Linked DNA regions of Homo sapiens: region 1 is linked to region 2. Evidence: fine-mapped expression QTL. A gene starts in region 2. The other region holds a variant in brackets. All regions are shown on one strand. Distances are from middle to middle.

What was found.
Region 1: its variant is fine-mapped to the expression of MRFAP1L2 in spleen (GTEx, PIP 0.94).

The regions. Positions count from the first base shown.
Region 1 is chr4:6,693,081-6,698,596 of GRCh38, forward strand. It overlaps S100P (S100 calcium binding protein P), which reads left to right and starts at 798. Exons shown (of 2, transcript NM_005980.3): 1 at 798-990; 2 at 3,813-4,090. The coding sequence starts at 853. The coding sequence ends at 3,962. RefSeq lists enhancers at 1-19, 329-1,065, 1,066-1,801, 3,004-3,766. The variant T/C (reference allele first, on the strand shown) is at 2,866.
Region 2 is chr4:6,671,054-6,676,053 of GRCh38, forward strand. MRFAP1L2 (Morf4 family associated protein 1 like 2) reads left to right here and starts at 3,022. Exons shown (of 1, transcript NM_138699.3): 1 at 3,022-4,994. The coding sequence starts at 3,160. The coding sequence ends at 3,519. LINC02482 (long intergenic non-protein coding RNA 2482) reads right to left here and starts at 2,828. Exons shown (of 2, transcript NR_134665.1): 1 at 2,631-2,828. RefSeq lists an enhancer at 2,016-2,624 and a silencer at 3,097-3,326.

The DNA of each region.
Region 1 (5,516 bases), 22 kb after region 2:
AGGAGAGCTGCTCAGAGAGGCCCCAGGGAATCTGACTCAACAGGCCCTACCAGGCTCTCCTCTTGGTCTGTGAGCATCCAGCCTTACTTTTGTATCCAATCATATTTCCATACTTCGCTGAACTGTGTTTATGGATAGTTTCCACCAGATCTTTGGATCTTCATCTTGAAGGCTGCCGTGCCACATAAGCTATGATCAAATACATCTGTTATGCTCTTCTCCTATTCATCTGCCTTCTGCCCGTTGATTTTCAGCAAACTCCCAGAGGATGAAGGGGAGTTTTCTGTTTGGCCCCACAGGGGAGGAGCGAGCGAGATTGACGTGGAAGCTGGGCCTCTGAAGGACACAGAGTGCTCTAAGAAAGGGACGATGGGGCAGATCCATGTTCACAAACACGCCCATGTGAATTCACTCTCAGATGTCTCCTCGTGTCAGCACGCTGGGTGCCAGCACGCTCTGATATTGACACAAAGGGCCACGGAGTCACCACTCACTCCACACACACTCACCCCGTGCCCACTTACCCAGGGAGGGCCAGGAATGAGGATGCCACTGTGGCTCAGTGATGGCGCCGAGACACAGGTGAACACTGTAAAATGTGGATGCCTGGAGGCAGCCCACACCCTGGGCCTTGGCTGGGGGAAAGGTTCCAGAAACGTCATCACAACGATGCATTTCATCAGAACTGAGCACATGAATGGGGAGGGGCAGGACTTCCTGAATGTCCCAACCCCACTGTCCCACCCTCTGTGTCAATATGAGGCTGCCTTATAAAGCACCAAGAGGCTGCCAGTGGGACATTTTCTCGGCCCTGCCAGCCCCCAGGAGGAAGGTGGGTCTGAATCTAGCACCATGACGGAACTAGAGACAGCCATGGGCATGATCATAGACGTCTTTTCCCGATATTCGGGCAGCGAGGGCAGCACGCAGACCCTGACCAAGGGGGAGCTCAAGGTGCTGATGGAGAAGGAGCTACCAGGCTTCCTGCAGGTGAGCCAGGCCGGCAGTGCTGGACTCAGCGGGGGCTGGGGAAGAAGGGGAAGGCGTGGCAGGCAGAGGGCTGAGAGCTGCGGTGGGGTCGGCGGTCAAGGGGCTCAGAGGCAAGAGGGACAGATCCTGAAATGCCCTGGAAGCCCAGCCAAGGAACGGACCCACCCTGGCATAAAGGCAGGGGAGGCGGGAGCATCTGAGCAGGGAGAGGGTGTGGTCAGCTTGATCCTTGAAACATGGGGTTGACCCCAGTGTATTTGTGACAGGCCTGGTGGGAGAGTGGGACTCAAACCTGTGCAGTGGGGGCAGGGGCGGAATGCAATCCAGGGCTGCCATTTGCAAGTTTGCCAAGCTTGCCAAGCCCTTGAGCCCTCGGGGCTGTCCTCCAAGGCTGCCGGCCATAAACGCCCCAGCTCTGCCTCCCACTTGCCCGCTTTCCCTGCTCCCATTCCCAGGCCCCTTGTTGCCTGGTATTAGTGGGTCTGGCAGGAAGGACGGGAGGAGGCTCCATCCTGGCACCTGTCTGCGCAGAGCTGTGGACCTCCCTTGGGCTCCCTGCCAGGGAGGAGCCACCGGCCTGAGCCTCACAGAAGGCCCCTCAGGGCGGCCAGGACCAGCTTCCTTCCGCCCGGGGCAGCCTCCGGCTGGGCTGAACAGAAGCCGTACCCTCTCCATTTCCCCTTCCCTTTGACCCCTGTCCTCTCCTTCTTTCTCACTCCCCCACTTTCTTCCTTCCTTCCCCTCCCCTTCGGGCCCCACCAGACTCTGCCTACCTGCTAAGGGGCTAACCCACATAGATGCTGATAATCAAAAATGAAAGCCTGAAATTTTCAGCCCTAGAATCACTTCAAAGACATGAAACACTTCAGAATATTGCTTCTATTTTCTTTTCTTTTCTTTTTTTTTTTTTTTGAGACAAGATGTCACTCTGTCACCCAGGCTGGAGTGCAGTGGCAGGATCACGGCTCACTGCAGCCTCGACCTCCCTGGGCTCAGGTGATCCTCCCACCTCAGCCTACCGAGTAGCTGGGACTACAGGTGCATGTCACCATACCCGGTTAATTTTTGTATTTTTTTTAGAGACAAGGTCTCACCATGTTGCCCAGGCTGGTCTCAAACTCCTGTGCTCAGGCAATGCGTCAGCCTCGACATCTCAAAGTGCTGTGATTACAGGCGTGAGCCCCGACACCTGGCCTAGTTCTATTTTCTAAATGTGAATTCTGTAAAGATATCTTTTAAAAATAAAGTTCTGTTTTTGGTAGAAAATGTAAAAATAGATAAATATGGAGGGAAGAAATCCCCCCTGGAATACAGACGCTTCCTCTCCCTTCCAGCCTTTTCCCCATATGAACATTGCTGTGAGTGAGATTTACATGCAATGTAATTTCTTTTTGAGCTTAACATTACAACATAAATTCTCAAACTCTGATGTTCATTAAACACCCCAGCCCCATCCTGGGAACTTGGGCTTGGGGCTCGGGGTGTTCTGATAATGATCAAAGTATGAGAATTGAACCCATGAGGACTTTGATCCAAGATACTGGGGTGTGGGGAGGGGCAGGCACAGGTGTCCTGGGAACACACTTTGAGAAGCAATGGCAAAGCTGGGGGTCCAGCTAATGTGTTACATTAGAATCACCTCGGGGAGGCCCTGGGTGCCCTTCTCAGCCCTCCCTCCGGAGGCTGCTGAAGCCCAGCAAAGCCGGAGTCAGAGAACAATGTCCGCCTGAGGGCAGGGCTGGGCTGGGCTGGCCTTCTGGCCCTATCTGCTCCGTGCCCAACCCAGCGCCCCGCACAGTCGGAGCTTTGTAAATACGAGGTGACTGTCTGCCTACAAACTTTGTAAACATCACTTGAAATGGCCGCAGGGTATTG[T/C]GACATGGCCATACCACTATTTGTTTGCTATTGAATTTGTACTTCCCTGCCTTACTTTTGCTATTGCAAACCATGCTGTCACTAAGGTCTTCATGCACACAGTTGTGTCTTGGTCAGATGATATGTTTCTACCAATTTTAATTGTGTTTCTTTCCACCTGGACACACAGCTCTCTGGCCCAGGGCTGGGTCATCAGCACACCCTGCTGCTGCTGTTCAGATCTGCATCCTGGTCCCGCTTGGTCCCACAGTGAGAACGCTTTGCTATCACATGGGCAGGCTCTGAGAGCCCTGCCGGCCTGGCCTTCTCAAAGAAGACCTGAGAGCTTGGGACCCAAGCAGAGAGGAAGAACAGGGCTCAGGGTGCTTGCTCCATGCTCGCTCCACACCTGGGGCTCAACCCTGGCTTTCCCCGGCTCCCTGTGTGACTTCAGGGCAGGTCCCTTGGGCCCTCTGGGCCTTATCATCTTCATCTGTAACAGGGCGATGCCTCTGCCGTGTCTGGTGGTGTTGAGGAGTTCCTGTTTGTGTAAGCAGCTAGTTCAGTGCCAGCACGAGATGGGAGGCCCATGAAGTTAGCAGTGCACAAAAAATAGAGCAAAGACTGGATGCATTTCCTGAGAACAACCATCACTGTAAAGCACTTTACAAATCCAAAGACAACCCCCGGCAAAAACTCAAAATGAAACTCCCTCTCGCAGAGCACAATTCCAATTCGCTCTAAAAACATTACAAGTTAGTTCATGTCATGCCAGATAGCTGAAGGCAGCTCACAAGTTCTTAAGGCCAGGAATGCCATGTGTCTGCTATGCACAGCTGGCCCTGGCCCTGACAGCAAAGGTGACGCAGATGTGGGTGCCCTGCTCCTGCCCAGCAGCAGTGCTTGGTGGAGGCTGAGGCCCTGCACAGGCACCCTCACTGCTGACCTTGAGCCTCTCTCTCCTCTAGAGTGGAAAAGACAAGGATGCCGTGGATAAATTGCTCAAGGACCTGGACGCCAATGGAGATGCCCAGGTGGACTTCAGTGAGTTCATAGTGTTCGTGGCTGCAATCACGTCTGCCTGTCACAAGTACTTTGAGAAGGCAGGACTCAAATGATGCCCTGGAGATGTCACAGATTCCTGGCAGAGCCATGGTCCCAGGCTTCCCAAAAGTGTTTGTTGGCAATTATTCCCCTAGGCTGAGCCTGCTCATGTACCTCTGATTAATAAATGCTTATGAAATGATCCTGGTCTCAGAGAAACTGGTTATTTCCTTAAAACCTCAGTGTCCTCTCCCCACAAAACAGAATTCACTAATTAAACTTGTCATTTCATTACTCATTGCCTGCCTGCAGTGGTGAGACAGATGAAGAAGACAAGGCAGTCGATAAAAATCCATTTGTTGGCCATCTTCTGAGTGCCCACTGAGACACAGTCCCACCTTTGGCCGTGTGAATGCCACCATGTCCTGGACCCAAGGGAGGCTCGGGTACACACATCCATGTATTTATTCATCTACTTCGTAATTCATTTAGTCGGTCACGTAGCCACTCATTGAACCTGGGCCCCTCCATCTCTCCAAACAGCATGTTTTCTTCAAGTAACATACTTCTAATATTTATTTATTTTTGAGACGGAGTCTCGCTCTTGTCACCCAGGCTGGAATGCAATGGCGCCATCTCAGCTCACTGCAACCTCCGCCTCTTGGGTTCAAGTGATTCTCCTGCCTCAGCCTCCCGAGTACCTGGGACTGCAGGCACCCGCAAAACCACACCTGGCTACTTTTTGTATTTTTAGTAGAGACGGGGTGTCACCATGTTGGCCAGGCTGGTCTCGAACTCCTGATTTCAGGTGATCTGCCCACCTCAACCTCCCAAAGTGCTGGGATTACAGGTGTGAGCCACTGCGCCTCGCAAAGTAACATATCTTTTTTTCTTTTTTTTTTTTTTTGAGACGGAGTCTCACTGTGTTGCCCAGGCTGGAGTGCAATGGTGCGATCTTGGCTCACTGCCAGCTCCGCCTCCCAGGTTCACGCCATTCTCCTGCCTCAACCTCCTGAGTAGCTGGGACTACAGGTGCCCACCACCACGCCCGGCTAATTTTTTGTATTTTTAGTAGAGACAGGGTTTCACCGTGTTAGCCAGGATGGTCTCGATCTCCTGAGCTCGTGATCCACCCACCTCGGCCTCCCAAAGTGCTGGGATTACAGGCTTCAGCCACCACGCCCAGACAGTAACATACTTTTAATGATGCAATGCTATTTTTGCCACAAAGACTATGAAACACCATAACAGAGAAACAATGAATTCCAAGAGAGCATTAGAATCATCAGTGAACAACTGCTCACATCACCTGTATTTAGTTTTACGACACTAATGTTGGGAGCACCCAAAAGGACTCAAGCGAGGTCTTGGATGATAGGTAGGTAACTGGATCTGGTTTTAGGACCCCTATCATTTTTTGGATACCCAGTATTTAAAGCCTCTTGCTATGTTTGAAGACATTTTCACTAGAGAAGATCTATCACCAAAAGATCCTGAACTTGGAGGTGGACACAACAATACGAGGCTTGGGTGGATCCCTCTTTGGGGAAGGGACTGCAGATTGCAAATATTTTTGCTAGAGAGAGAGTCGTGTTAGGTTAGATGGGAGCAGATACACACATTTAAAT
Region 2 (5,000 bases):
ATCGATGCTGTTACACAACCACATAAGCACTATTTTAGTCCGTTCACGCTGCTCTAACAAAATACCAGAAACTGGGTGTCTTCTAAACAACAGAAATGTATTTTCTGAGTTCTGAAGGCTGAGCAGTACAAGATCACGGTGCCAGCAGGTTTGGTGCCTGGTGAGGGCCCACTTCTGGTTCATAGAAGCCCATCTTTTTGCTATAACCTCCCACAGCAGAAGGGGTAAGGCGGCCCTGTGGAGTTGTTTTATGAGGGTGCTAATCTCATTCATGAAAGCTGAGCCTTCATGACCACATCACCTCCCAAAGACCCCACCTCCTAATATCATCACATTGGGGATTGCTTTGCAACATATGAATTTTGGGGGGACTCACATATTTGGACCATGGCAAGCCCCTTAAAAGCAGAGTTTTCTCCAGCTGGGAGCAGAAGGGGATGACAGAGAGGCTGGAAGGATAAGAAGGATCCGACATGCTCTTACTGGCTTTGAAGATGGAGAGGGCCACGTTTAAGGACCGGAGAGTGACCTGTAGGAGCTGAGAGTGACCTCTGGCCATCAAGCATGGAGGGTCCCCTTAACTTTCTGCTAGAGGTACACAGTGAATAAGCCTAGACACAATGACATGCAGTGGGTGCTTAATAAAGATCTCTTGGGAAATGAGCATTAAAGCAACATTTACTGGGCTCCTGCTGTATGCCAAGCCCATTTCAAGCTGAGGAAACAGATGACTAAACTGACTAAGTACCTGCCCCTAGGGCCTGTTTTCTCGCAGAGGCACTTATATAGTCCAGTGAAGAAAGAAATCTTCCAGAATGATTCCTAAAGGCATATTCAGAGCCTGGCAGGGCTGAGGAAACAGTGGTGAATCAGACCCACCTTGGCCTTGGGTGCCCACAGTGGGTAAAGCCAGACTCCAACTTACAGCCAAAGCCCCAGGCAGAGTGAAGCTTATACCCTTAGGAAAAAAGTAGGGGGAGGCTGGGTCACAGCACTCAGCATCAGCACCGAGGCCGCAGCTCTGTGTTCCAGGAGCATCTGCCCGAGGCAAGAGGGAGCGGAGGCCCTGGCTGGGGGCAAATCCCGACGCTGTGAGCACCTGGCTTCTCGGAGCCTGGAATATTCTAACGGGACCACTGAATTCGGTTGTTTATTATTTTTATTTATTTATTTTGAGACAGGGTCTCGCCCTGTCACTGGGCTGGGGTGCAGTGGCGCAATCAGGCGTTCAGAGCTCACCTCGGTCTCGACCTGCTGGGCTCAAGCAATCTTCCCGGCTCAGCCTCTCAAGTAGCTGGGACTATCGGCACGCGCCACCACGCCCAGCTAATTTCTTGTGTTTTTTTTGGTAGGGTTTTTTCCCTTGTTGCCCAGGCTGGTATGGAACTCCTGAGCTCAAGCGATCCTCTCACCTCAGCCTCCCAAAGTGCTGGGATTATAGGCGTGAGCCACACGCCCGGCCTGGGTGTTTATGATTTAGAATGTTGGTGAGAGGTGACAGTGTGCTGGCAGTCCTCACAGCCCTCGCTCACTCTCGGTGCCTCCTCTGCCTGGGCTCCCACTTTGGCAGCACTTGAGGAGCCCTTCAGCCCACTGCTGCACTGTGGAGGCCCCTTTCTGGGCTGGCCAAGGCCAGAGCCGGCTCTCTCAGCTTGCAGGGAGGTGTGGAGGGAGAGGCGCGAGCGGGCACCGGGGCTGCACACGGCGCTTGCGGGCCAGCTGGAGTTCAGGGTGGGCGTGGGCTTGGTGGGCCCCGCACTCGGAGCAGCCGGCTGGCCCTGCCAGCCCCCGGCAATGAGGGGCTTAGCACCCGGGCCAGCGGCTGCGGAGGGTGTACTGGGTCCCTCAGCAGTGCCAGCCCACCGGCGCTGTGCTCGATTTCTCACCGGGCCTTAGCTGCCTTTCCGAGGGGCAGGGCTCGGGACCTGCAGCCCGCCATGCCTGAGCCTCCCACCCCCTCCATGGGCTCCTGTGCTGCCCGAGCCTCCTCGACGAGCACCACCCCCTGCTCCACGGCGCCCAGTCCCATCACCACCCAAGGGCTGAGGAGTGTGGGCGCACGGTGCCGTTCTCGCAGGCAGCTCCACCTGCAGCCCTGGTGTGGGATCCACTTGGTGAAGCCAGCTGGGCTCCTGAGTCTGGTGGGGATGTGGAGAACCTTTATGTCTAGCTCAGGGATTGTAAATACACCAATCAGCACCGTGTGTCTAGCTCAGGGTTTGTGAATATACCAATCGACTCTGCTGGGGCCTTGGAGAACCTTTGTGTCTAGCTCAGGGATTGTAAACGCACCAATCAGCACCCTGTCAAAACAGACCACTCGGCTCTACCAATCAGCAGGATGTGGGTGGGGCCAGATAAGACAATAAAAGCAGGCTGCCGGAGCCAGCAGTGGCAACCGGCTCAGGTCCCCTTCTATTGTGGAAGCTTTGTTCTTTCTCTCTTTGCAATAAATCCTGCTGCTGCTCACTCTTTGGGTCCACACTGCCTTTATGAGCCGTAACAGGTCTGCAGTTTCACTCCTGAGCCGGCGAGACCACGAACCCACCAGAAGGAAAAAACTCCGAACACATCCGAACATCAGAAGGAACAAACTCCAGACGCGCCACTTTAAGAGCTGTAACACTCACCGCGAGGGTCCGTGGCTTCATTCTTGAAGTCAGTGAGACCAAGAACCCACCAATTCCGGACACATTGGGAACTTAGAGCAGTGCTTGGGACATGGTTATCAGCGTCAGATATTTCCTTAAACTAGCGTGAAGTCGACTTTAACCTTCCAGCAGTGTGAGTGAGGGCCCTGACCCTAGAATCAACGCCCAAAGAGCTGTGGCGCTACAGCGGGCGGGGACATGGGGTGCGCATGCGTGCGGGGGGGTACGCGTGCGTGCAAGTGCGCGTGCGCGCGCAGGACCGCTGAGGCGGGAGCCCCGAATGCGGTTCTCGCTTGCTGCGTGGCGGTAAAGGACCGCAGGTGTCGTAAAAGGGCCGCAGTGGCAGCGTCCTGGCCGACGGCTAGTAGCCCATTTTGGATACCGTCCTCGCTGCGGAAAGTTGGGGCAACCTGTTGCTAGTCTGGTCGTTGGTGACAGCGAGGCTTCCGCGCTCGCTGCTGGTGAGCAGCCCCGGCGTGCCCCGCGGGCTGGAAGAGGCGGCGGCGTGATGCGGCCCGTGGACGCGGACGAGGCGCGGGAGCCCCGCGAGGAGCCGGGCAGCCCGCTGAGCCCCGCGCCCCGCGCCGGCCGCGAGAACCTGGCCTCCCTGGAGCGCGAGCGCGCCCGGGCGCACTGGCGGGCCCGCAGGAAGCTGCTGGAGATCCAGAGCCTGCTCGACGCCATCAAGAGTGAGGTGGAGGCAGAGGAGCGGGGCGCCCGGGCCCCAGCACCCCGCCCGCGTGCGGAGGCTGAGGAGCGGGTGGCTCGGCTGTGCGCCGAAGCAGAGAGGAAGGCTGCGGAGGCGGCGCGGATGGGCAGGCGGATCGTGGAGCTGCACCAGCGGATCGCCGGCTGCGAGTGCTGCTGAGCCGGCGAGGCCGCGCGGGTCTGGAGCGGAGCGCGGCGGGGAGTGTCCCGCGTGGAAGGCGCTGGGTAGGCAGGGAGGGGAGCGCAGAGCCGTGCCACGCTCTCCGCGGAGTTGGTTTCATTCTTTTTTCATAGGTAATTAGAGAAAATAATTTGATATGTTGTTGTAAAGAGTCATGACCACTGGAAGTATTTTCAGGACGTAGACCTGGTGGGTCACTACGTGGGGGGAGAGAGGTGTGAAGCGGAGGTACATGCTGGAAACGTGTGAATGTTGTTACGAGATTGGAGCGTTTGCGATGACCTTCCTGCAGGTGGAAGCATTGTGCACAGGTGGTTGGGTTTGTTTGACTCCCGGATATGAGAATATCAAGCTCAAAATTTATGTTGTGATGATGAATTTCTCCCACTTGTACTTTAGGTGGCCAACTGACGAACTGTGTTCACCTGATAAGGAGTCGTGGCTGCTTGGACAGGCTCAAACCAAGAGAGCCTTTCGTTTTGTCTCCCCTGTTTTTCTGCCTGCGTTTTCTCCACATTAGCCACTCAATTTCCAGTACCATCCTGGCGGATGACTTCAGCATTAGATGGTCAGGTGTATTTTTTTATTAATAGGCGCATTCAGTTTGGAAAAGACAGCTTTTCATTAATGTCCCACGTAAAGGAATATGGCCTATACAGTACGTACGCTGCTGCGTGGTCATATTTGTTCCTGTGATCTTATTGTATTTTCAAAGTTTGGAAGTATACTCGTGTGCTTTGCTGTTTTTTTATGCTTCCTGGAATTTGGGGACTCATGAGAGACTTGAGGTTAGAGTTCTGCAAGTGAGAAGACACTACATGGTTGCAGCTGCCACATGAAGAACCCAAGCTCCTGTCAAAGTTGTGAATGCGACTTTGGATGAGATTAAGAAGGCCCAGTGGACGGTTGGTCTTGAAGAGTGGCAGTGTGTGGATTTGAGGACCTCTGCAGACCATCAGATCAAAGGAGGGAGAGCTGTTTTGGGTGTTTTGTTTTTTTTGTTTTTATAGCATTTTGCTTTTTCTTGGAATGTAATTTTCCTATGGCATGTTAACTGGTGCACATCGTGTAACCTGTCTGGTGAGCAACCTACAATTGGGATGAGTTCTAGGTACATGTGTTTGCTGACTTTGGGGTAAACAACTTTGTTATAATACAGTCTCTGCCACAGATGCATGTGACCTCTTCAGGGGCCCAGAGTGGCTGAGGAAGGAAAGCTTCAAGCTGGCCATGGGGGTCCCAAACAGTCATTCCAGGCTTAGATGATGACTAGCCTAGGTCATCAGAGCCCAGACTCCACAGAGACTAAAATCAGAGCTCTGTCTTGTTATGATAAATTTCATTTGCTTGGAAAAAGAAATGCTGAAAGCCAGTGTTTAGAATCTTTGTGCAGATGACCAAAGCAATTGACTTGGCCAAGAAAAGGTAAGGTAAATAAACATTTTTCAAAATGAGTTTCT